7 linked regions of the Homo sapiens genome follow. The protein of the gene in region 3 purifies or fractionates together with the protein of the main gene of each other region. This does not show direct contact. Each region holds a gene or a part of one and is shown on either strand. Other genes may lie near its edges.

Region 1 (4,060 bases), on a different chromosome or scaffold from region 3:
GAATGCTCAAATAGTTGGGAAGAGATTGCTGCACTGTGTTTTGCACGCCCAAAGCCCACATAGGTACTCAGTTTAAAAATCTTAATAGAATTGAATCCTGCTCTTATCATAGGAAAGGAAGAGCATCTGATAGAAACACAAAATGAAAAGGTCAAGAACTGGCTGGGCACAGTGGCTCTCGCCTGTAATCCCAGCACTTTGGGAGGCTGAGGCGGGAGGATCATGAGGTCAGGAGTTCGAGACCAGCCTGGTCAATATGGTGAAACCCCGTCTCTACTAAAAATACAAAAAATAGCTGGGCGTGGTGGCGCGCACCTGTAGTCCCAGCTATTCAGGAGGCTGAGGCAGGAAAATCGCTTGAACCTGGGAGGCGGAGGTTGCAGTGAGCCAAGATCACGCCACTGCACACCAGCCTGGGCAACAGAGCAAGACTCCGTCTCTCAAAAAAAAAAAACAAAAAAAGTCGAGAACTGGAAAGGAACTAAGCGCATGAAAAGAAATTTTATGTTCCTTCATGTTTTTATTTAAAGAAAGTGAATCAAGTACCAAACACGGAATAAAGGCAAACATTCATTTTTGGGGTGATTGTTCCCTTCTTGGCAATCCCTGTTTTATTGAGGGTATCACTAGTTATTCAATCCAAGGATTTTTTTTGTTTCCACAGGAGGTGGGTGTTTCTTTGTCTTCTTAGAGTCAGGATTCCAGATCTCCTGATGTGTGGGACTTTTCTTGGCCACTACGATTTCATCTACAGTCACGAGCTGTAGCACCACCTCAGCCACTGCTCGAAATCCTTGGGCTTTGACTATTAGGGTGTCCCACACCCCTTCCTGGGCCACATTTATTATCCCTTCAGTTCCCACACCCATTAGGAGGTTCCCACCTTGGTGCACTCCACTCATTTCTGCCATCACGTCTGAGACAGCTAAGCCTGCATTCTCTGCCAAAGTTTTAGGAAGATACTTCAGGGCCCAGGCAAATGCTAGGAATGCAGGCCCACTGGGCCCTTCCAATCTGCTTCCTTTATCAGAAAGCATTTTTGCCAAAGCCATTTCTGTGGCCCCAGCTCCTGGAATCAGTCTGGGATCTTGACATAGCTGGAAATAGGCATCAATGCCGTGGTAGACGGCCTGCTCTGCACTCCGCAGCCCCTGGGTGGTGGCTCCCCTGAGAACCACAGTGAGGGCAGGTGTGCCTGTACATTCCCATTCAAATACCACAGCCAAACCATCTCCCAGCTCCTGCCTGTAAACCCTCTGGCACTTGCCTGGCCTCTGGGGAGGGAGCAGACGAGGCAGCAGAGGTGTGTCCAACACCTCACTCAGGTAAATGATCTCCATCCAAGACCTAGCTTGAATCACCACGATGCCATACTTGTCCGCCAGTGTGAGGGTCTCCTCGTCGACCTCCCCCAACACCACTGCCACATTAATTCCTGCAGCTGCTAGCTGGCCTACTTGCTTTTCTAGTAATTGATCGCTTCCTTTACTAAATTGAGCTAGATCAGCAGGACTAGAAAGACGGGCCGTTGCTGGTGCATTTGGATGGGCAGGACCAAAGGGGCAAGCAAAGAGAGCCACCCTGGCACCACTTAACACTGTGGCCATTTGCCCACAGAGCTTCCCAGATATTGCTAACCCCGGGAGGAGGCAGGAATCCTCCAGTGTCCCCCCGGGCAGCGCGCACACCCCAACACGCTCAGGCTTGAAGCTGCCGTCTAGTTCCTTGATAGCCCAGCAGGCGTGGGCCACCAGCTTGGTCAAGTGGTCCATGGGGGACAGGGTGTGGGTATTCATCACAGAATGGAGGGCCCAGGATGGATCTTCCAAAGGCCCCAGAGATTGGATGGCCAGGGAGGGCAGTGTGGCCAGGACCTCTGCAGTGGCCGTGGCGTAGGCCTCCCGGAGCTGCGGGCGAGGCAGGCCAGCCTTCAGCAGCTGCTCTGCCTGTTCCAGCAAGGCTTCCGTCAGCAGAACCACGAAGGCTGTGCCGTCCCCACTATTCTCTGCCTGGGTTTGTCCTGCTTCCCGGAGGAGCCATGCTGCTGGGTGCTCCAGCTCCAGGGCCCTGAGGATGGCAGTGGCACACCCCGTGCACACTGTTTCTCCTTTCATGGTCACCAGGAACTTCTGCCGGCCGTGGGGGCCATAGCAAGGCCGGATGACACTGGCCAGGGTCTGGACTGCAGCCAAGCTGCTCAGCAGGTGGGGCTCCTCCTCTTCTGGACTCCTCGGGCTCTCCCTTGGGTTCAGTGCCAGCCGCTGGGGCAGCTCCAGGGCTGAAGGGACTGTGCTGTCCATGGCCCGCAGAGAGAGGAGAGGCCACCGTGGGTTGCAGAGATGCTCTAGAAACAGCAGCTGGGGCACTCCTGACACCGATCGTTGAAAGTACTCAAGAGGTCAGTGGAAGCAAGGAGCCAAATGCCCATTGATTGGTATCTGAAGACATCAGCACGGACCAGCACTCCACTGTGGGTCCAAGGATGAGCTCCAAAGAGCCCAGTCCTAAAGCCACCCCAGGGTTGATTCTGTAAAGGAACTGGGTCTTGGGGCCTCTCAACCTTGGTGGCTGAAATGGGATCTTTAACTGATGAAGTCACAAAGTGGAAAATGGAACCAGGATAGAGAATGAGGTCACAGAAGGCTGGTTAGAACTGAGGAGGCCCTACCAGCAGGCAAAAGTCAGGCCTTGTCCAGCAATGGAGGTACATGCACCTCTGCACCAGGTTTGAGACTTGTTTAAACGTAAGAGACAATGAGGAGGAGATCAAGTGAAAAACTACCCATTTCACCCTATCTGGAGTGCAGGGGCATAACCATGGTTCACTGCAGGCCCAGCTCCCTGGTCTCAAGCAGTCCTCCTGCTCAGGTTCCCAAGTACCTGGGACTACAGGCACACACCACCACACCTAGCTAGTTTTTTTATTTTTTGTAGAGACAGTGTTTCTGTCTGTTGTCCAGGCAGGTCTCGAATTCCTAGCCTCAAGAGAGCCTTCCACCTTGGCCTCCCAAAGTGCTAGGACTACAGGTGTGAGCCACCACCTCACCCACCCTTTTTTTTTTTTTTTTTTTGAGACAGAGTCACACTCTGTTGCCCAGGCTGGAGTGCAGTGGTACAATCTTAGCTCACTGCAACCTCCACCTCCCAGGTTCAAGCAGTTCTCCTGCCTCAGCCTCTCAGTAGCTGGGATTACAGGTGCCAGCCACCACGCCCGGCTAATTTTTTATATTTTTAGTAGAGATAGGGGGATTTCACCATGTTGGCCATGGTTGGCCAGGTTAGTCTCAAACTCCTGGCCTCAAGTGATCCGCCCACCTCGGCCTCCAAAAGTGCTGGGATTACAGGTGTGAGCCACTGCACCTGGCCTTTTTTTTTTATTTGAGAAGGAACTGAGAGATGATGTCTGTGTTTTGTTTTGTTTTGGTGTTACTTTCTCTTGCAGTACTGTGTAATATTAGCCATGTTTTGCTGTCTGCCTTTGACTTTTTGGGTATCTTATCAGTTTGTGCTTGTGTATCAGGTTTCTTAGGGTGTCTGTTGGTCTTTCAGGGTGCAGGTGTGGGAGGCTGCACAGCGTGCATGCCTGTGCCACGACTCCCAACTCTGCCTCCCTGGCAGAGGCAGGGCAAGACAAGTGGGGAAGGATGCTGACAGCTCACAGACAAATAGAAGTGAACCCAGAGGGGTGAAAAGCAACCAGCCTCCCAGCGGTCAGGGAGGTAGAAGCCTAAATGGGGTCCTGAGATTTAAATGCGAATCGCCTTCCCATCCTAACCTTCAATGCTTACAATTTAAGTCTCTTTTTTTCATTCTCTCTCCTTTCCTCACTTGTCTCCTCTTTCCTCCTATAGAGCCTACTCGGGTAATGATGCTTCTGCTTTAGTTTAACACATATTTAGTCTGGGCGTGGTGGCTCATGCATGTAATCCCTGCACGTTGGGAGGCTGAGGCGGGAGGATTGCTTAAGCTCAGGAGGTTGAGGCTTCAGTGAGCCATGATTGCACCACTGCATTCCAGCTAGGGCAACAGAGTGAGACTTGTCTCAAAAAAAATAGGGGAA
Region 2 (3,500 bases), on a different chromosome or scaffold from region 3:
GCTCAAGTAAGGTCTTGCGCCAGGCATCACCTTGGTAAGGAAAGGGGAGGGCACCAGGTTGGGGGTGGTGCAGGTGTGTGATGGGAGGACAGTGGGGAGGAGCGAGAGGGCAGGGGAAGGATGTGCCTCTGTCTTGCTCCCTGGATCTGATGGGACCTGCCATTTTTCTATACTGCTCAGAGGGCAAAGAAACCCAGGTAATGGGAGGTCACTACTCAATTGTCATAAAATACCCAGCAACAAGTGGGAGCAAAACAGGTGCCTAAAGTATCAGTGTACTTCTAGGCAAGGATGGGAGAGAATGGTTTCTTGCTACTTTTCCTGGCATTCTACGAAAATCTCTGGAGGATTGTTGCCTAGAGCAGGGATAGGTAACCTTTCGGCCTCTGGGCCAAATTTGGCTGCAGCCCACTATTTAAATAAAGTTTTATGGGAACACAGCCACAGTCATCTGTTTAAGAGTCCTCTATGGCTGCTTTTGTAGACAAAGGCAGAATTGAGTCATTGTGACAGAGACCATATAGCTACAAAGTCTAAAAGAGTTACTGTCTGGCCCTTTATAGAAAGGGTTTGCTGACCCCTGGCCTAGGGGTGGGTTCCCACTTACAGATGGAGAACTGACTAACAAATAAATGGGCTCCTAAAAAGGACCAGTTTCTAGAACAGACAGCTTCCAGACATACTTTGTCTGAAGCAAACCAAGAGGCAAGTGGGGGTACTGCTGTGTACCTCGTAGAGTTTGGTGGCAACAAGTTTCCTACCAGTGGTGTTGATTCCTTCCATAATTACAACCTGAAAGACAAAAACAAACAGGATTGCTAAGCAGTGGAGATCAATGAGGTCTGGAATACATTATTTTGAGGCAGTTAAAAGCATTGTCCAACTACTCTCATTCTGTAATCATAAACTTAGGGCATTTTTGTAGAAAACGAATTAAGGGCGTTGCATTAGTAATAATAATTATGCTCTATATAAGTGATCTAATTTTCACAACAATCCTATGAGGTAAGAATTATTATTTCCATTTTGTGAGTGAAGAAACTGTAGTTTAGATGGTTAAGTACCTTGTGCACAGTCATGCACCTCATGGAGCGGGGAGTTGGGATTTGAGGCTGCGCAGTCAGGTCCCAGAGCCTGGGTCAGAGCATGGGGGAAACAGGAATCCCAACAGTGGTGTCTGCTCTGGGGCATGTGCTCCAGCTGCACCCCATGGCAGCAGAGACAGGAACTGAGGAGCAGCTGCGCATGGCACAGCACCTACACTACAGGGGTAAAGAGTGCGCCTGCATTCTGGTGGAACTCCTCCAATCTCACCTGTCCAGGAAACAGAGAATATTCCTTAAGCTCAGATAAATCCACTGGAATTTGAGCACCCGAGGAATGTTCCCGGTCTCCCTCGAGAATCACTGACTTGTTGTTCAGCTTCCCGTTGCTATCACAGCCAATCTGGCCCAGCAGAGTGACAGGCTCCTACCAAAGGAAGGTCACAGCATAAGAATGACAGTCTTTGGAGCAGGAGCTCAAAATCTGAAGTCGATAGGGTGAATAGCAAAACAAACTGCAAACAACAAATACATTTCTTGGCAGGGCATTGCTTTGACCCTGAGGTGACTACCGCGTCATCACTGACTCTCAGGATGGAAGAACTCTGAAAGGGCATCTTGTCCACCCATCCACCCAGCACTTGAGCCTTCCTAGGAGGCTGCCTAAGTGTGAGCATCTCTAGTGTAGGGGAACTTGCCCCTGGATGCCTACCCCACCCTGTCCTCACCACCCCAGGGCAGCCCACTGCATCTTTGGGCAGCTATAACTACTTAATAATAGCTAACATTTCTTGAGCTTACTAAATACCATGCACTGTTCTAAAATGTATTCTTAGGCATTTTATATGTATTAACTCATTTAATCCTTGCAACAACCATCGGGTGGATATTACTGTATCCATTTTACAGATGAGGAAAACAAGCAACAGAAAGGTTAGATAATTTAGTCAAGGTCAAACTGTGGGTGAAGCTTGGGTTTGAAACCAGAAATTTGGCTCTAGAGCCATATCCTTAGCCACATACCATACAACCTCTTAACAGGAAGTTCTTTATTAATTGAGCTAAAATCTCTGTCTCCATGGCTTCCTCTGTTCTGTTCCCACTCTTGGGAGAAAACAGAGGAAGTCTCATCTTTCCCAGTGATTGTGCCTCCCTGCCTTCCCTCAATTACTTCCTTCCAAGTCCTCTAACACTTCCTTCTATGACACAGTTCTGCATCACTTCCCCAACTGATCATTCTTTGAATGTAAACATTGACAAAGGTACTTTAAAGAAACTTCTAGAATATATTTCCCCTTAGATTAGAAAACATTCTAGAGAGAAAGCACTGGTATATATGCCAGATTAAACTATGATATAAAGATACTATTGGCAGCAGTTTGTCTATAACAAGAGACCAAACCAGGGGAGAGACTGTGAGTCATTGTCCAGAGAACAAGATTCTGAAAACCCCACCGTCGCTGCTGTCCTTTTATCTCGATACGTGAATGCTTCTATTTGTGGGAAATCCCCGGGGAGCTACCTGACTCACCACCAAGGGAAACAAGGCCTTGAGTCTCTGCTTATGTGCAAGACTCTAATCCAAGTGGGAAGAAAATCACTCTCTGGCCACAAAACCAGACAGCACTTACAAATCTTTCTTCAGAAGGGCCCATTTTCCCAAATTCAACCAAGACAGATGTTCAAACTAGAACACAGACAAGAAGTGAAAAAGGAAGCAAGAAGGATGCCTCTTGGTCATCGATTTAAAAACGTAATATTAATTAGTGAGAACTATTAGAACAACTCTTACCTGTGCTGGGGCTAGCAAAGGAGTGAAAGCTTCAATCTTGTAATGTTCCTTGAGTTCGCTGCCAAGTTCTTCTATCTTACAGGTCAGAACTACAATCCCAGAAGTGGAAAAAAGTATTATGTTTAAGACATTTCACTTGCCAAGAAGAGAAAATACAGCACATTGTAAAATATTAAAGTCAGTCATTTTACAGAAGCAGGAAGGGTGCCTGGACATCTGGCCAGTTTAAACCTTCTAAAACCTTTGCCAATTTTCCGATATTTGGTTGCTGAATCTGGCCTTCCATCTGGCCACAGGAGACCCCATAGCACAATTCCAGGGAATCAGCATGAACCCCACCCCATCTCCAAGTCTGCCCTTTACTCAAGTCCTCACTGAGGTTTTAGGCAAGTCAAGGCCAACCTGAAGAAGGCTTCTAACGAAGGAACCATGAATATCTTTAAGTTGAATTCCTTTACATCGTTCAAGTTTTTGCTGCTGGGAATGGTTATGTGCGTTTTAGCAAAGTGAAGTGACTTGGGGCAATCACTGATAGTATTGCCCGTGTCCCTCCATTACTAGGGCTTCCATGAGGACATCTACCAACTCATACATTGAAAGGCAACCTTGGAACTTGTTCTACCAGCCTAGCTGAAGCTTTGTTACTCTACACCCTTCTAGGTGGT
Region 3 (3,500 bases):
AAGATTGAGACTCGGTCTCAAAAAAAAAAAAAAGAAAGAAAGAAAAGAAAATCCTTGAGAAACTTTATTTATAGACTTTTAGAGACTGTGGCTTTCCAGTACTCATCACCATGGAGAAAACTAGTCAAAATCACACAGAGTGAATAAGGGTTGCAAGCCAGTGCTGCTTCCTGGAATAAGCTGGTCCACTAGTCTAGTCTTGTGCTTTGTCCTTCATTTTGAACTCAAGTGCCCTGGGGCTGCTTTTCTGCGTACCCACAATAGCAAGGAACTCTTTTGTTTGCATCTCCTCTGAAAGAAATGCTTGTTTTGAGGTTTGGACCGCAAATAATAATCTATTGTTCCCTGTAATAATAATCCACCCTCTTTCGCAGAAAAAAAAATCTGCTTGATGCAGTATGGCTATCAGTTTATTTAAAAGAATAGCCAAAAGTGCCCATTATGTCCTGAGAATAAACATTTGCAAGATGGTTGGGAGGAATGGGGGAGTACTCTTGTTCTCCTTGGCTGAGAGTCAGTTAAGTCTTCAAGGAGAAAAAATTCTGAAAATGACCATCAGTCCTGGCTGACAATACTCTTCCTTATTCTGCCCGTCTGTTACATTCTAAGAATTATTGCAACACTGCAGATATTTATTCCAAACGATTTCTTTAAAAAATATGGAAGATGGGTATTTTTAAGTTACCAATTTTGGGCCAAATAAGTTTTTTTTTTCTGACTTTCATTTTGTCTGTGAAAGCATTTCTTTTATAGCAGTATGTTCAAATTAGCAATCTTTAAGAATTTGGCAAATACTTTTAACAGCAATCCTTAACAATTCCTGCAGTTGCCTACTATTGCAGATCTTGAAAAAAGAGCCATTTTTATATTCTAAGTGGTAGACACATTTCAATTACTATTTCCTGGGCTTAGGCTAACTGACAAAACTTGATGGGTGAAATGAAAATGTGATATACGGTGTAATCAGCTGTTTACTTACCTAGCACAGTGAAATCTTATGGTAGGTATGATTGCACTAACAAAACCAAAACATGCATTTTTCTTCCTTAAGTTCTTTATAAGAAAAGGATCAGTTAAATAATAAATGTGGCTTTAAAATGAAGTTATATCTTAGGATAGTTTTAATTGCATTACATATGGATGATGAGAAAAGTTCAGTGTGATAACAATTGCGTAACAGATAAGCATGAGAACTACTTAAAGAAATAAAAATATGCCCATCACCTCATTAAAAATAGACCATCAGGGAAGCCACCAAGAAGTCCTTCAGTAGGTGAATGAATAAACTGTGGTACATCCATACAATTTGTATATTATTCAGCAATAAAAAGAAATGAGATATTATGCCACAAAAAGACACGGAAGAAAGTTAAGTGCATATTACTAAGTGAAAGAAGGCAACCTTAAAAGGCTACATGCTGTATAATTTTAACTAGATAACATTCTAGAAAAGGCAAACCTATAGAGACAGTATAAGGTCAGTGTTTGCCAGGGGTGTGGGGGGAAGGACGGCAGGAATAAATTGGTGTAGCACAGGGGATGCTTAGGGAGTGAAACTATTCTGTATGATACTGTAATGGTGGAGACGTCACTATTCACCTTTGTCAAAATCCATAAGATCTACAACACTAACACAAATCCTAATGTAAACTATGGACTGTGGTTAACAATGATGTAACCATATTGGCTCATCAATTAAAACAAACGTATAACACTAATGCCAGATGTTAATAATAGGAGAAACAGGTTGGCCATGGGAGAGTGAGGGAATATGAGAATTCTACCTTCTATTCAATGTTTCTGTAAACCTGAAACTGCTCTTTAAAAAGTCTATTAGTTTAAAAAAAAAATTCAATATAACCAGACTAATAAAAATATCTTAACTAAAAAGCAATACAAACCTAAACTGTCAGCAATTATTCTGTTTATAGTGCTATTCTGATTGAACTTAGCTGTAGAATATTCTGCCAGAAATATGTAATGGCAGTGAATTACTGTATATATCTAGTAACTTTGCTGTATCTTTTCTTGTCTGGCAAAAATGCACAGTGGTATTCATGTTAAGTCCTACTTTCAACTACCCTTATTCCTTTCTCTTCAGTGACAGCTGGAGTATCAGCCTTGGAAGTATATACGCCAAAAGAAATCTTCGTGGCAAATGGTACACAAGGGAAGCTGACCTGCAAGTTCAAGTCTACTAGTACGACTGGCGGGTTGACCTCAGTCTCCTGGAGCTTCCAGCCAGAGGGGGCCGACACTACTGTGTCGGTAAGAATGCTTGACTTCTCTTGGCTAGTCCTGCCTCACAGGTTTCTTTACTGCTGTATAATTGGTGATCCATTTTTCTGATGGTTCATTTCCAAAATGAGTGTATTTTTTATCTGTTATAGACTTCAAGGCCCTTCTTTTGCTTCAGGATAAAATAAGTTCAGCATCTCTTAAATGCGTCTGGTTTCCTTGTCTTTGATCAGTTCCTCTCCACCATCAAATCCCATTCTGAAATTGATCTTAATTGACCACACTGACTCTAATCAGGATTTATCCTGCATCTTTTCATCTTTTATTGCCCCATATTTATTGATATTTGTTTTATGTATTATCAAATTTTATATATATATGTATGCATCTTCTGATTTGATTATCTTTTTTTAATTTAGCGTATAGTCCATCTGATTTAGCAATATTGATTTGGGAGCTTACTATGTAGTGGGTTATGTAGGGCCTTCAAAAATGTCTAAAACAGAATCCTTGCTCTCACCTAGAGATGATTAGGAGGAAGGCTGATATATAGATGACTTTGGAGTAAGATAAAGGATGTAACAGAAATACAGCACCAGAGCATTGAAAAAAGGTTATTTAGTAACTAGTGGAGTGCTGGTTATTAAACATGAACTGACTATCTTGGTTCTGGTCTGTAAAATGGAGACGATAAAACCTCCCACACAAGGGTGTTAGGAGGATAAAGTAAGATTATTCAAGATAAGTGCTCAGGAGAGTGTCTAGCTCTTGAGTTACTAAAATACACCATTTGTTGTTACTGTTGCTCTCCCAGCATGTGGAATGCCCTTCATATATTGGCACATATTTTAGTACTGTTGCATGTTTCAGGTTGTCAGTGTTTAGCAAGGACAGTCTGTCATCTATCTTTAAGAATGCCCAATTCTTCTTCTGAATGGTGAGTTACATTGTTGATCACCACCTAGATGTTGGGCCCATCATATGCCTATGCCATTTAATCTTCACAGCTCTATGAGGAAGACAGGGTGGGGAGGATGGGAGACACTGACTCAAGAGTTATTCACCTGTGGCCATACCACACAGGTTAGAATTGTTTAAACTTCAATACGGTATGATTTCCCTTATGTATTATTTCTCTCTCAGGTAGAAAAATCTGCTAATAATATTTACGGCCTCATAGGTTTTAGGGATTACCTAAGGCAGTGCTTCTCAGTATTTTTTAAAATTTATTTTTAAAAGGAGCCTTTTCACATTTTTCTTAA
Region 4 (3,500 bases), on a different chromosome or scaffold from region 3:
AAATTAATGCCAACAGTATTGGAGGCCTTAAGTCTCTATGGATTCCTAAGCCTTTAGTATAATAACTGAATAGCCTCAATTCATTTTTGCATTGTAAAAGTAGCATGAATTTTAAATTACAGTCATAATGATAACCAAAAATAAATAGGAAAAAAAATAAGAAACATTTAAGCTCATAAACGGAACATTTTCATGGATACTATGTGCTTATGGGGTGGGGAGAAAAATAGTTCCTATTACAAATAATAATAAAAACTACAAGAAAAAGCTTCTTAACGGAACCTAACAAGGGCTGACACTACACAGCTATATTTTCTGCTCATTGTCACTGCAAATTTTGTATCATGGATGATTTGAACAATTTAAAAAACATAAACTTAATTTGCCAAATAGCATGATCTTGTAAAATTTTTAAAAATTCCTCTGGCCATATTATTTTTAATTAACCAAGTTCATGACCCTTCTTTTGAGGCCCCATCCTCCCCAGACCAAGAGTGGTTGAGTAGTGGAGATAGTGCCTGAACCCCAATTTCTGACTTAAGTAAAACTCCATGCACTTACTACTCTATCACACTCTCTTTTCTTAATGCTTCTTTCTCCCAGCTCTGCACTATATTTTCTCTCTGATTTTCAGTGAACTATACTCTCCTGGTTTTCACAATCTGCTTTTTTTTTTTTTTCTATTTTCCTAAAGTGAACTTGAGCAGTAAAGAATAACAAGAAGTTTCAGAGTCAGACTAATCAGGTTTATGTGATACCTGCCTTTCACAGTTTTTGTGATATTTCAAAGAGATAGTCATACAAAAGCTTCATACTTAATACCCTGTCAATAAATGCAATGTTCCAAGCCATAGCACTTTTTAGAACTATTTTTTCTTGCATCATGTTGACTTCTTAGGCTTTCAAATTGTTCTCAGGTTTTCCCATGACCTATCTCAAAAACAAACTATTTCTAATTAATGTCTCTAATTAATGTTACCAATAATATGAAACTAACCTCCAGATTCCCATATTATAATAGATATTAAAAATGATTACTTCCTTGTCTGCTTTTACAAACATAAGTATATTTCCAGACTACTCTGCTTAATATGAGCATATTTGGTTTTCATTTCAGTAACAACAGACACTGTTCAATTTAGAGAGTAATTTGCACTTACGAATAAATTTGGTGACCAGAGAATTCACTGACCCATATATGTTATGAAAATTAAATTCTTATTAAAAGATTTACTCTACTAACAACATCAACTCTGTTTTTTTTCTTAACTCTTTATTGTGAAGAAGCTTAAATAATCCCAAAAGTAGACAATATTATAATGAAACTTAATGTACCCATTATCAGCCTCAACATAATCAACTAATGGCCAATCCTACCCCACCCACACCCCAACTACTTTCTTCTTGGGCATATTATTTAGAAGCAAATTTCAAATATCACATCACCTCCTTCATAAATATTTGAATGTGTATCTCCAAATAATAAGTAATTTTAAAAGACAACCACAATACGGTTATCCCACTAAAAATATAATTATTCATTAAGGTTATCTAACATCCAGAGTATATTAAATTTTCACTTGTTTCATCAGAATTTTTTAAGGTTGTTTGTTTGAATCATGATCCAACCATTCCATACATTGTGATGGGTTGCTAACTTTTTACATTTCTTTTCATCTGTTCTCCAGATTTTCTTGTTCTTGTTCCCAGGAACTTATTTGAAGTAACTGGGTTGTTTGTACTGTAGAGGTTCCCAGAGCCTACTGCCTACTATGGTGTAGATTTTGGCATATTCCTCATCCCTCTATTTCTTAAAAATTGGAGGCTGTGTATTTCCTTTTCCTTCCCTCCTTTCTTGCTTTCTCTTTTCTTTCTTTCTAGTCAGAAGAGTCAGTTCTAGCTATCATTTTAATGGTTGGTTGGGTTTTGCCTTGTATTTTGCCAATAGTGTGCCTTTTTTGTGACTTCCAGACTTTTATCCATGGGTCTGTGCATTGCCCTCAAGTGCTACATAATGAAAAAATCCAGTCTTCTACTTAAACAAACCATGCACAAATCTTTTCATTTAACTGTGCCTTTCACCATCGTGGTACTCCTCTTTTGAATAGGCTAGCTTTCTAATGTCAGTTTTAAAATGTACTTATAAGACTAAAAATAATATATGTGGTATGTTGCTTTATCAGGAAAATCAAGAACATCTCCTGGAAGTGACCAGGGCTTGAAACTAGTGCTACATCCCTTTGTACCCCCAGCTCATCCCCGCTTAAGCCAGGGCAGCTGCCCTTTGCTTTGATGAGGTAAATGCAGAAACATAGGTTGGATCGCCTCATAATTTCACCATCTGTCATGCTAGATGATATAACTTGTTTGCCTAGTTGTTAAGTAGTCTGGCTGTGAATTCTTGATTTTTTTTTTTTCTTGAGAGCAATAGTGAGTAATCTTGTGCTGCAGACTCTATGGGAGTAATGCAGTGTGTAGAATATAAATGACCATTTTTGCTCTAAATTTTGAATATCAAATCTTCTCATAGGTTTGATTGTTACAGAAGCAGTGAAACGTGATTCGGCTAATGGTAAGGAAAGAATTCCACACATAGTGCAATAATTCTTCTCCTGAAGCCTGAGGTTATGTAATAGTTTATAAGTTGAGAGTTGGATATAAGCTCTTCTAACATTTTAAATAAAAAGCTTTCTTGAACTAAGCGTTCTAGTAAATACTAAGTTAATTATATATGGGATTCCCAGCAACTTGGATACATTACATTGCAAGGAAGATAAAGGACTGTTTATAGCCCTAAACCTGTGTGCTGTTTGAGTGTAATCCAGTCTGGGCCTGATTCAACCTACCTAAATGTAACATGGTCCTAGTGTAGGCTCCAATAACAACCTAATTGACCAACCTAACAGTCTCACACAGTAAGAAGACATATCCAATATGACTCTGTGGTCAGGCATGGGTATGAATCCTAGCTATATCACATACAGTTGTGTGAATTCTAGCACATTCTTTAAACTCTCTCAACTTCAGCTTCCTATTCTCTAAACAGCAATAATATTAGCCTTTATTCTCATTTGGTGGCCCTGAAGATTAAATGAATATTTATCAAGCTTAATACAGTGCTTGACATCTTATGTCTTCAGAATAAATATGTTATCATTGCTGTTATAATTATCTTTATTAATTTATTTTGCCAGAATCAAAGGTGTTATTACCCTAAAATCCTTTGGAGTTCAACTTTGTCCTATTTCTAATTTATCTATTACTCTGTACCTGAAACACAATTCTGTATTTAGCATTATTTCCTTTCTTCCACTGGATGAAGTAAGCCAGCTTGGAACCTGCAGTGGAAATTGATGTGAGCAACTAGGTGAGGTTATAGGCACGACATGCACTGTAGTTGAATAAGCACTGGGATGAGCCATGGGAGGCATGAAATTTATCCTCAGATCTCTCCTAATTTCCCATGACCATGAGACAGTCATATAATCTGTATGAGCCTT
Region 5 (3,500 bases), on a different chromosome or scaffold from region 3:
ACAGCTACAATCAGCCTAAGTCCAAATAAAGTGTAATAATGTAGCAAAAAAATTGAATCAATGCTAGAGAAAAACATTTATGATGATCAACTTGCTCCTAGAAGTCTGATTTAATTTTAAGAAGCTCTGTTATGTTTAAACTGTGTTTATGACATGGAAGAAAGATTTCATCTTATCTGTCAATTCTCATCATTCATTAGTGGTTGTCTGAAGATTGTGTTGAGAAAGATGCTCAAATTAGAAGAAAGTAAACATCTTCCCAGTAGCAATGTTTTCTACAGGCTTTGAACAGATTACTGGTGGCATGTAGCCCTCCTTCCCCATTGCCACTCCTACTCTAAGTTCATCTACCTGAAGTAGTTTTAGGAGGGCAGGTTTCTTGGCCAAAGGAGACCTAAAAATATAGTCCATTCTGGGGCACCCAAAGGGACAGAGTCTTATTCTAAAGAATGTCTGGAAGAATTTGACCCTTAAACTCCAGAGATTGTCCTAGTGTTGACCCCCAAAAAACTACTCTTAAAACATCAGTCTTTGTAAACATCTACTTGATTAATTCTCTTAGGACATTAACTGGGAGGCAGTAACTTTCCAGTGGCATAATTTGGTGACAAAAGTTTGATTTGATACTCTAAAATATTTGCTTTGCCTTGTATTTAAAGGGGTTTTAAAATAAAGTTTTGTGCAGAAACCTGGTCAGGAAACCTTGGAGTTGGTAATAGCAATGCACACCAATTTGAAAGCATCCCTTTAGTGAAACTCTATTTAAGGTAGAGCCAATTCCAATGTTAAGAAACTAACATTCACACCCATATGCAAGGGTGTGAATTTTCTTCTAAATGGATTGTTTGCTATTATAGTAGTTACAGTTTTTAATTCAGTGGTATGGGGGATTTCCTGAAATACTATAGAAATACATTCTTTCTTCACTGCATTCCTTTGCACAACTCAAATAACTGTGTGTTAGTAAATTGAGATGTAGCTAGATGACATATTCTGTATTTTCTTATCATTCAGATGCAGCTTCCCTGTCACTCCTTCTAAGAGACCTTCCTCAACCACCCAGTTGAAAGTATCCATCTAGTCTATGCAGCCATAAAAAAGGATGAGTTCATGTCCTTTGTAGGGACATGGATGAAACTGAAAACCATCATTCTGAGCAAACTATCACAAGGACAGAAAACCAAACCCCGCATGTTCTCACTCATAGGTGGAAATTGAACAATGAGAACACTTGGACACAGGGCTGGGAACATTACACACCAGGGCCTGTCGTGGGGTGGGGGGAGGGGAGAGGGATAGCATTAAGAGAAATACCTAATGTAAATGACAAGTAAATGGGTACAGCACACCAACATGGCACATGTATACATATGTAACAGACCTGCACGTTGTGCACATGTACGCTAGAACTTAAAGTATAATAAGAAAAAAAAGAATTTCAAAAACTACTAAAAACAAGAAAGTATCCATCTAGTCAGTTGTTTCATATCATCCTATTCTAATTCTCTTCACTTATCTTGATATATTATATTTCTTGTCTTTTAATGTTTGTTTACTGTTTCTGTCCTCCAAACTTCACCAGGCACACACTAGAAATATAAACTTCGTGCAGCAGGAGTCTTATGTGTTTTGTTTCCTCTGTTGGCTGTTCCTATAAGGTTACCTGGCACACAGTAGGCGTTTCATCTACATTTCTGAAATTAAAAAACTGTGCCTTTACAAACAAATTGGATCAAACCAAAATTACCATGTTGGATTGAATCAGTGAGTTGCAGCAGTCTTTCTGGAACAAGGCAGGCTAAATTTATATTATCCAAATTTATGGTTGGTTTTACTGGAATGAGGAATGGCTCCCTGATAATTTCCTGCCCACCATGGATCTTGATTCTCTGCATGTGAATCTGGATTAAGCACAGTTCACTAAACAGAAACTTATAATTCAGCACAATTTTTGTCTGGAGAATGAGTCACAGAGATATCAATGGCAACCACATGCCGCCATTTTTAAATGAAAATCAAATTCAGAGGTGACCAACAATACCTTATGAGCATACTCCTCTGGTTTCATATTTTGAACACAATGTATAGCTTTATACATCATCTTCTCTCGGAAATCATTAACTGTCTCATGTTCGATAACTCCTGAACCACTGTGAGCAACCAGGACGTAGGTGCTCTCATCAGCTCTGGCTCGACCACGGGCCTGAAAACACAAATAAATCAAGTAAATGAAAGGGTACGTTGTGATACAAATCCTCCTGGTTTTTTCTGGGAATGATATTCTTGCTCAGAATGAAATGATATTGGGTTGTTCAGCATGCCAGTCTTCAAATGGGTAAAGTTAGTAAAGTTAGTTATTAATCCATTACTTGTAAGTCAGCTCTTTGAAACTTATAATATGCTTTAATACAGAAAAAGTGTTCTAGAGTGATGATGGTTAGGCCTCAATGACATAATATCATCCTGTCCAGGCTTTTTGCTCTCAGAACTTCTCTCTCAAACTATGAGAACCACGATCAATGACTTGGACTGAGGAGTCGTCTTTCTTGGTAGGAAGCTGGGAGGAATGAATGGAGAGAAGGGTCATCTCTGACCTTGACACTAGGGCTGGTGAGAAGGCAGGTCAGTTTCTGGCATCCTACATTACATTCTTAGCACATTTTCCCATGGGAACATATTTAACATGGTGATAACTTTCTACAAGCCTCTTTATGAAAGTGATATTCAGGTATATTTTGATTAATAGAAACTTCTGTGGCCTGGCCCAGGAGCCTATCAACTATAAAAGTATCCTCAAGGAAAAATGTATTCTAAGTTTGATTACTAAGCTTATCACTGACTTACAAATAGACTCCTGAAATAAAATTATTTGCTAATTTGATGGCAGTCTGGTTATCTTAGTCTTCTATGACTTGCCTTTTATTCAAGGATGCAATTTAAGTTATTTAAAAATCCCTTTAGTTAATTTTATAGGAAGAATAGTGTATCTATTAATCAGCATAACACCTATGCCTACTCAACAGGTTACAATAATGCCATTAACATAGGTGGGTAAGAGATAAAGTGAAATCTGAATGAAAACAGAACATTTCACTCTTTTATTTATTTTTACATTTATAAGTCTGCCCCCAACCAACATTTTATCATGAAAACTTCTAAACACACAGAAAATTGGAAAGGATAAGGGAAGAAAATGCAGAAACAGCAGGGCTCCCTCAGGTTTGGGCATGTTACTTCATCAGACATTTGTGGGACAGTGTACTTTAGATTCCTGGTCCAGCTGGGGGCTCACAGACATCCTAGGAAAGAGGAGGCTGCTTTTGACTCTTACAAATGGGGCTAGTGTCATGGTCCTGGAAAGCCTTAGGGTACAGAAATAGCTAAAGAGGAGTTGTTGTTTAAACATACAACAGGTATCTGGTTATTATATGAATTGACAGCAATATGAAAGGCAACAGTGCACAGCATTTTAAAAATGCTCTTTTAACAGGAAAAAGGCT
Region 6 (3,500 bases), on a different chromosome or scaffold from region 3:
CAGGGAATATTTGGCAATGTCTGAAGATGTTTTTGGTTGTCTTAACTAGGGGAATGCTACTGGCATCTAGTGGGTAGAAGCCAGGGATGTTGTTAAATATCCTACTCTGCACAGGGCAACCCCCTCACAACAAATAATTATCCAACCCAAAATGTTATTTGTGCTGACACTGAGAAAACCTGAACTACATTTTAGAATCTCCCTTCTTCAAAATCTAATAAAACAAAAAATAAAAACAAAAAATAAAACAAAAAGGCCAACATTTTATTAGCAGCAACCAAATATAAAAGGGCCTGCCATAAATTTTGAAGACTGATAGTCAAAATAAGAAACAAAGTTATATGTGATTGATGGTCATTCCCAACTCTACCCCTACCTCCAATAAGAGGTTGTAGGGAAATAGTTTACAAAATCCTAAACACTTACCAGAAATACACTCCAAAATGACAAAAAGTAGAGCCGAGGAATGAATAAGCAACACAAGGAAAAGTCAACAAAAAAATTTCAAGAGTGAGTTTTAACCATCTCTTTGCTTTGGGAAGGAGAAGGTCAGGTCACATTCTAGGGCTCAGAACAAAGAGAAATGAGAGCTCTGAGGTCGAATGATGTCCCCATACAAGGCAAAGGAATTTTATTCATAAGCAGTTGGGCAGACCCAAGAGTGAAATACTTGGTACTTCAAGAGAGCAGAGCCTAAAAGCCACATTGCCCCATTTGGCTCTCTGAATCACCACTTTTCCCTTCTCTTTCCCTCCACTCCAACAATATACAGCTTTCAAACTAGGGCTCAGGAGAAAAACAAACTTGGGTAAGGAGAGTGGAGTATTAAAAATATTTCCCATCAGCACCACATAGAAGTTCTCCCACATCAAGAAGAAACATGTATGCATATGTATTACAGCCTGACAAAAAGAAACACGCACATACAGGGAATAAAAAGCAAGAAAGAACACAAAATGAAGAAATGAATAGGGCACACAAGTGGCAAAGAACCCATTCTGGAAGGATACATAACCCAATAAAAACTAAAGAAAATTCTCAACAACTTCATCATAATGAAGAACTTGAAAACAATACAACCTTATAATAAACAAGCTCAAAAGCAAGAAGAAGCAGAATAAGATGAAAATGCGTTTGTAGCGCTAAAGAAACTTAGAGCCTATATAACACAATGACTTAACCAATTAATTCATTTAAAATATCAAAAACAGGACAGACACTGGAGAAAACAGAATTATTGACAAAAAGAAAGGCTTCAGATGATCACAGTAAATGCAAAGGTAAAAGACAAATCAAAGCAATTAGAATACATACGAACAACAAAAGAAAATTCAGTATTAAAAAAACTGGTGTCATGAAGTAGAGGATCTAATAATTTGACCAAAAAAAAGTATTCATGGTAATAAACAAGGAAAATGTTCTTAGAAGAACTAAGGGCATACTATAATTTAGGGAAAAATGATTATAAGTGACACTTAGATATACCTTGTTTATATTACTGAATTTCAAAAATAAAGAAGAAAACTCTCAGGCATTTTAGATTAAAAAAAAAAATTGCCTTCAAGGAGGTAGGGAGAAAAATCAGACTTTTCTACAGTAACACTAGATGTCCCAAAATAATAAAACAGGGACCACAAAGTTCTAATGAAAGTGTTCCCAAACAAGTTATTTTTCAGGAACGAAAGCAATAGACAGACATTCTCAAGCATTAAAGAAAACAGCAAGCATTGAAACTCAGAGACTATAATACTCACAAATTCTTCCTAATAAAAAGAGAAAACATTGGACAAAGAAATCCAGCCAATCAAACACTAGGAGATTATGGAACAACATTTACAAAGTTGAGGGGGAATAAAGTGTGACTGATAAATTTTATACCTAGCCAAGTAATCCTTCAAGTAATATAAAAACAAAAGACAAATATTTTGAATCAATGAAGTGTATAAGAACCCAAAGAATGCATGCAGTACCTGTAACTTGAAAAGACTGCCTGACAATGAAATTCAATCAGGAGATGGACTAACTCGGGAATGGAGAAGCAACAGTACTGGTAATAAGCACCAAAACTATTAAAACATAGAACTAAAAGAATTATGACAGAACCATGACAACATAAAGAATATGATCAACATGAAACTAGGCCAATTAATATCCTACAATGGCCTGTAAGTGTTCAAGTGAAAGGAACAGTCACCTGTTTCTCACTTTAAATCAAGAGCTAGAAATGATTATGCTTAGTGAGGAAGTTATGTTGAAAGCCAAGATACGCCAAAAGCTAGGTCTCTTGAGCCAGTTAGCTAAGTTGTGAATGCAAAGGAAAAGTTCTTGAAGGAAATTAAAAGTGCTACTCCAGTAAACACACAAATGATAATAAAACAGCCTTATTGCTGATATGAAGTGGTCTGGATAGATGATCAAACAAGCCACAATGTTCCCTTAAGCCAAAGCCTAATTCAGAGCAACCCTAACTCTCTTCAGTTCTATGAAGGCTGAGAGAGGTGAGGAAGCTAGAGAAGAAAAGTTGGAAGGTAGCAGAGGTTGGTTCACAAGATTTAAAGAAAGAAGCCATCTCCATAACATAAAAGTGCAAGGGAAAGCAGCAAATGCTGATATAGAAGCTGTAGTAAACTACCTAGAAGATGTAGCTAACATCATTCATGAAAGTAGCTACACTAAGCAACAGACTTATTTTTTATTTATTTATTTATTTATTTTGAGATGGAGTCTCGCTCTGTCACCCAGGCTGGAGTGCAATGTGCAATCTCAGCTCACTGCCACCTCCGTCTCCCGGGTTCAAGCCATTCTCCTACCTCAGCCTCCCAAGTAACTGGGATTACAGGCTCCCACCACCAAGCCAGGCTAATTTTTGGTATTTTTAGCTGAGATGGGGTTTCACTATGTTGGCCAGGCTGGTCTTGAACTCCTGAACTCGTGAACTGCCCACCTCGGCCTCCCAAAGTGCTGAGATTACAGGCATGAGCCACCGAGCCCGGCCAGCAACAGATTTTTAATGGAGATGAAATGGCCTCCTTTTGGAAGAAGATGCCATTTAGGACTTTCATAGCTATAGAGAAGTCAATGCCTGGCTTCAAAGATTCAAAGGACAGGCTGACTCTCTTGTTAGAGGCTAAAGCAGCTGGTGACTTCAAGTTGAAGCCAATAATCATTTACTATCCTAAAAATTCTAGGGCCATTAAGAATTATGCTAAATCTCCTCTGCCTGTTTTCTATAAATAATAAAGCCTAGATGACAGCACATCTGTTTACAGCACGGTTTAGTTTAAGCCCACCATTGAGATCTACTGCTTAGAAAAGAAAAGATTCCTTCAAAATATTATTGCTCATTGACAACGCACCTGATCACCCAAGAGCTGTGATGGAGATGTACAAGATTAATGTTGTTTTCATGCCTGCTAACACAACATCCATTCTGCAGCCCACTGATCAAGGAGTAACTTTGACTTTTAAGTCTTATTTAAGAAATATATTTCATAAGGCTA
Region 7 (3,500 bases), on a different chromosome or scaffold from region 3:
CAAGGCTGTCAAATTCACTTTGATTTTGGCCTCAGCTGGGCTTCATGCTTTCAGAACAATTTCTCCCACCGCCTTTCACTTGAAGTCCTTGGCAGGGATGCCTCTCCCATTCTGCACGCACAGCTCACTTAATGGGCACAAAGAAATGGGAGAAAGCTCAGGGAAAAAAGAAATAACAACCCGACCCAGTCTAAATCTTGGGAAATCGAACAGGGTCTGCATCTCTTTGAAAACTATACACAGACATTTCTGGTCGAAGTGAAACCATGCTTCTCACAGAGGGTTGGAGACAGCAAATGGAGCCTTAGTCATACACAGTTAGTTTCAAACTTATGTTGCTGCTCACAGGGAGAAATCAATGTACGGTATATTAAAAACAATCACTGCAGCCCTTAAATGATCCAATAGTTTAGCTTTGAATGCATTCAAGCTAATGGGGGCTTTAATGGCTTCTGACAGATCATTCCATTGATCAAGGGGCATGTATGAAATACGCTGCCTACTAAACTCTGTTTTGATTTTGAGAAAAGAAAACTAAACGTCCATGGTAAACATGGCTTGATTGTTCACATGTTCACCGAGATCCCTCTCAGCGTGACCCTGGTTGGGAGCAGAGGAGGGAAGGATAATGGAATCCTATATACCTGGTTTGCTTCTCTCCTGACTCTAATCAAGGCATAATCAACGGGAAACCTCTGTCTGCAGAGTTGGGGGCAGGGGGAAGGAAGGTGACCAGCGGTCCAGTTTTCTGGGTTGGATGAGTTATAAGCCACGGCTTTGGCTGTCTGAGAAACTGATTCATCTCTTGCAAGCCTTGGGGGTTTGAAGGTTAACTGTTCTGGTTCCAACGTGGAAAGCCGAATTCCCTATTTGAAAGGATAATCAGGTTTTTCAGTTGGGGACAGCAGTTTTGCAAAGAAACAAATGAAATCATGCTCCTCCATCCGTGTGTCTGGAGGCTCCAAGATTATTTTATGAAGTGCTGAACGTACCTCTACTCAAGAAAGGCAGTTTCCACAGGGTGCATGGAGTCTGAAAAACCTAAAGAGGCCTTAACATGATTCATTGAGACTATTCTTGTGCAAGAGAGGTTTCTATTTCTCCAAGCCCTGGCAGCCTGCTGTGGCTTTAAGAGTGAGCCATAGACTGTTCCTGTGTCAGACTGGTCTTGCCTGATCAGAAGTAATGAATGTATGTAGAAATTCTTCCATTACCCAGCCAAACTAAATTGGTTTCACAAAACGAATAATAATAATTTCTCTCCCTTGGACTTGAGTAGGACTTTAGCATTTACAAAGCCTTTTTCCAAATGTTATCTCCACCTGCTAGCTGCACAGTCGTGGTTTTACCTGTGTGGATGGGGATGGATCTGGCTTGTGGACCCTCTCTCCTTCTCTCGGAGGCTGGGAAGGGAAGAAGGGTGCCCTTGAAACTGGCACCACGAAGACAGTGATCACCTGTGGTCTTTGTTTAATCTTTAACACCAAGCAAGGCTGTGTGGAGGGCAAGGCGTAGTGGCTCACGCTTGTAATCTCAGCGCTTTGGGAGGCCGATGCAGGCAGATCACTTGAGCCTCGGAGTTTGAAACCAGCCTGTGTAATGTGGTGAAATCCTGTCTCTACAAAAAAATTAGCCGGATGTGGTGGCAAGTGCCTATGATCCCGACTACTTAGGAGGCTGAGGCAGGAGAATCGCTTGAGCCCATGAAGTCGAGGCTGCAGTGAGCCGTGATCTCACCACTGCACTCCAGCCTACGTGACAGGGTGAGACCCTGTCTGAAAAAAAAAAAGAAAAAAAAAAAAGACTGTGTGAAAGAGCTTCATGCCATTATCACTAATGAAGAGGGTCAGAATTACCCGAAGCACACAGGATCTGGAACCATTGAACTTCTCCTAAACTTCCTGTAGAACGGTCTTGACCCTTTTGGCCCCACCTGTAGGGCACCTTGCTGTCCTAGGCCAGCACTTCCCATCTCTCAGCAGGAAACTACCGCATTTACCAGATCAGAAACAAAGGGAATCTCCGCCTGCTAGAAGTGCTTCATTTGTATTGGTGCCATGTTTAGTCAGTGGCTTTTGTAAAATTGATGAATTTTGTCTAAAGGCAAGTGCAGACAGGCAAACAGATCTGTATCTGCTGTTATCCATTTAGCTTGACACACATGTGCAGAGGAACTATTTTACCTCAATTCTTTCAGGATTGATGAAAAGTAAATGCGAGCAAAGTCATGAACTGCATCATTGGAAAAGAATCACTGAATCTAATGCTGGAGGTTAATTAATGCTTCCCTCCCCTTGAAATAGACTGACCCTGGTACTTAGACATTCAGAGTCAATAAACAATTGTTGTACACAGATCATCCATTAGAAGGTGATGGCAAGAATTTTTTTAAGCAAATCCAAAATTGCAATGGGTGACCTACTCCCACTGTAGAAATGAGAGTCCTAAAACATCATTTTTCATAATATCTCATTTATAAAAAGTTCCATGCCATCCGCCTAGCGAAAAATGGAAGCTGTGAAGAGCAAATGGGATAATATATGGGATAGTGACACAATATTCTTCTTGAACAAGCCACAGCTATCTTTAGTCCCTTTAATATTTTGGTCAGGATATCACGGATCATATTTTTCATCATAATAATGTACATGCGTGGCGTGATTTTTAAGTACCAGACATGATATGAATCACTTAACATGGCTGATCGTAGGGGACAGAACAATCCAATGAGCTAGGCATTATCATCATCCCCATTATAGAAACAAAGACTGGAGCGCAGAGGGGTTAAGTGATTTGGCCCAGTCACAAAGCTACAACTGTTACCACAGGAAACTTGGTTAATAATAATAGCTAGTACCTCACTGAAGCCCAGTATATGTCAGGTACTGTGGGAGGCATTTTAAATACGCATTAACTTATTGAACCTTCACAACAACCTTAGGTGATGGATTACTACTATTCTATTTTGTAGATAAGACAACAAAGGTTTGAAGAGGTGGTAGAGTGAGAATCACACACAGAATCAGAACTTAAACTCAGAAAACCTCTTCTGCCACTCAGGAATCCAAAGATTTGGAAAATCTGATGAATGACAGCGGGATAGAAAGAGCAGAGGATGCAGAGAGGCTCAGTTTCCAATGTAGGAGGAGGATTTGGGCCAGAGAGCAGGAAGAACTTGGCTGACAAGGTTCTGAGAGGTGGGAATTAGGACTGTCCTGGGAGCATGGGGCCGATGGGACACAGGACTATGGGAGCAGGGCTGCCTGGGAACCGGGGTGGAAAGCTGTCTGGTCCTTCTAGCCGGGATCTGGGGGGCACTTGTGGTTCTCCTTGTTAATAAGAGAGAATGGAGAACCAGATCTTCAGATACTTTCCTGGAGTTTCCAGGAATCTATCGGGTGTCTCAGGTGAGCGAGAGAACCAGGTGAATGCCTTCTGACAACCCCCAAAACCTGCCTCCCAAACACAGCAGTGGCCCAGGGGTGCCCTTGCTGTCTTGC

Evidence for each region.
Region 1: the proteins of MPZL1 (region 3) and CCT8L2 purify together in Homo sapiens (co-immunoprecipitation; one large-scale study listed by IntAct). This does not show direct contact.
Region 2: the proteins of MPZL1 (region 3) and POLA2 purify together in Homo sapiens (affinity purification with mass spectrometry; one large-scale study listed by BioGRID and IntAct). This does not show direct contact.
Region 4: the proteins of MPZL1 (region 3) and TRDN purify together in Homo sapiens (co-immunoprecipitation; one large-scale study listed by IntAct). This does not show direct contact.
Region 5: the proteins of MPZL1 (region 3) and IFIH1 purify together in Homo sapiens (affinity purification with mass spectrometry; one large-scale study listed by BioGRID and IntAct). This does not show direct contact.
Region 6: the proteins of MPZL1 (region 3) and ZNG1A purify together in Homo sapiens (affinity purification with mass spectrometry; one large-scale study listed by BioGRID and IntAct). This does not show direct contact.
Region 7: the proteins of MPZL1 (region 3) and FTO purify together in Homo sapiens (affinity purification with mass spectrometry; one large-scale study listed by BioGRID and IntAct). This does not show direct contact.

Annotation. Positions count from the first base shown.
Region 1 is NC_000022.11:16,590,251-16,594,310, forward strand, and holds CCT8L2 (T-complex protein 1 subunit theta-like 2), read right to left. Parts: upstream 2,561-4,060; 5' UTR 2,301-2,560; coding exon 627-2,300; 3' UTR 501-626; downstream 1-500. UniProt on the Homo sapiens protein: Possible molecular chaperone; assists the folding of proteins upon ATP hydrolysis.
Region 2 is NC_000011.10:65,278,962-65,282,461, reverse strand, and holds part of POLA2 (DNA polymerase alpha subunit B), read right to left. Parts: intron 2,925-3,500; coding exon 2,836-2,924; intron 1,471-2,835; coding exon 1,315-1,470; intron 793-1,314; coding exon 730-792; intron 1-729. UniProt on the Homo sapiens protein: Accessory subunit of the DNA polymerase alpha complex (also known as the alpha DNA polymerase-primase complex) which plays an essential role in the initiation of DNA synthesis.
Region 3 is NC_000001.11:167,763,482-167,766,981, forward strand, and holds part of MPZL1 (myelin protein zero-like protein 1 isoform a precursor), read left to right. Parts: intron 1-2,101; coding exon 2,102-2,268; intron 2,269-3,500. UniProt on the Homo sapiens protein: Cell surface receptor, which is involved in signal transduction processes. Recruits PTPN11/SHP-2 to the cell membrane and is a putative substrate of PTPN11/SHP-2.
Region 4 is NC_000006.12:123,630,451-123,633,950, forward strand, and holds part of TRDN (triadin), read right to left. Parts: intron 1-3,500. UniProt on the Homo sapiens protein: Contributes to the regulation of lumenal Ca2+ release via the sarcoplasmic reticulum calcium release channels RYR1 and RYR2, a key step in triggering skeletal and heart muscle contraction.
Region 5 is NC_000002.12:162,270,185-162,273,684, forward strand, and holds part of IFIH1 (interferon-induced helicase C domain-containing protein 1), read right to left. Parts: intron 2,204-3,500; coding exon 2,042-2,203; intron 1-2,041.
Region 6 is NC_000009.12:165,557-169,056, forward strand, and holds part of ZNG1A (zinc-regulated GTPase metalloprotein activator 1A), read right to left. Parts: intron 1-3,500. UniProt on the Homo sapiens protein: Zinc chaperone that directly transfers zinc cofactor to target metalloproteins, thereby activating them.
Region 7 is NC_000016.10:54,116,656-54,120,155, reverse strand, and holds part of FTO (alpha-ketoglutarate-dependent dioxygenase FTO), read right to left. Parts: 3' UTR 1-3,500.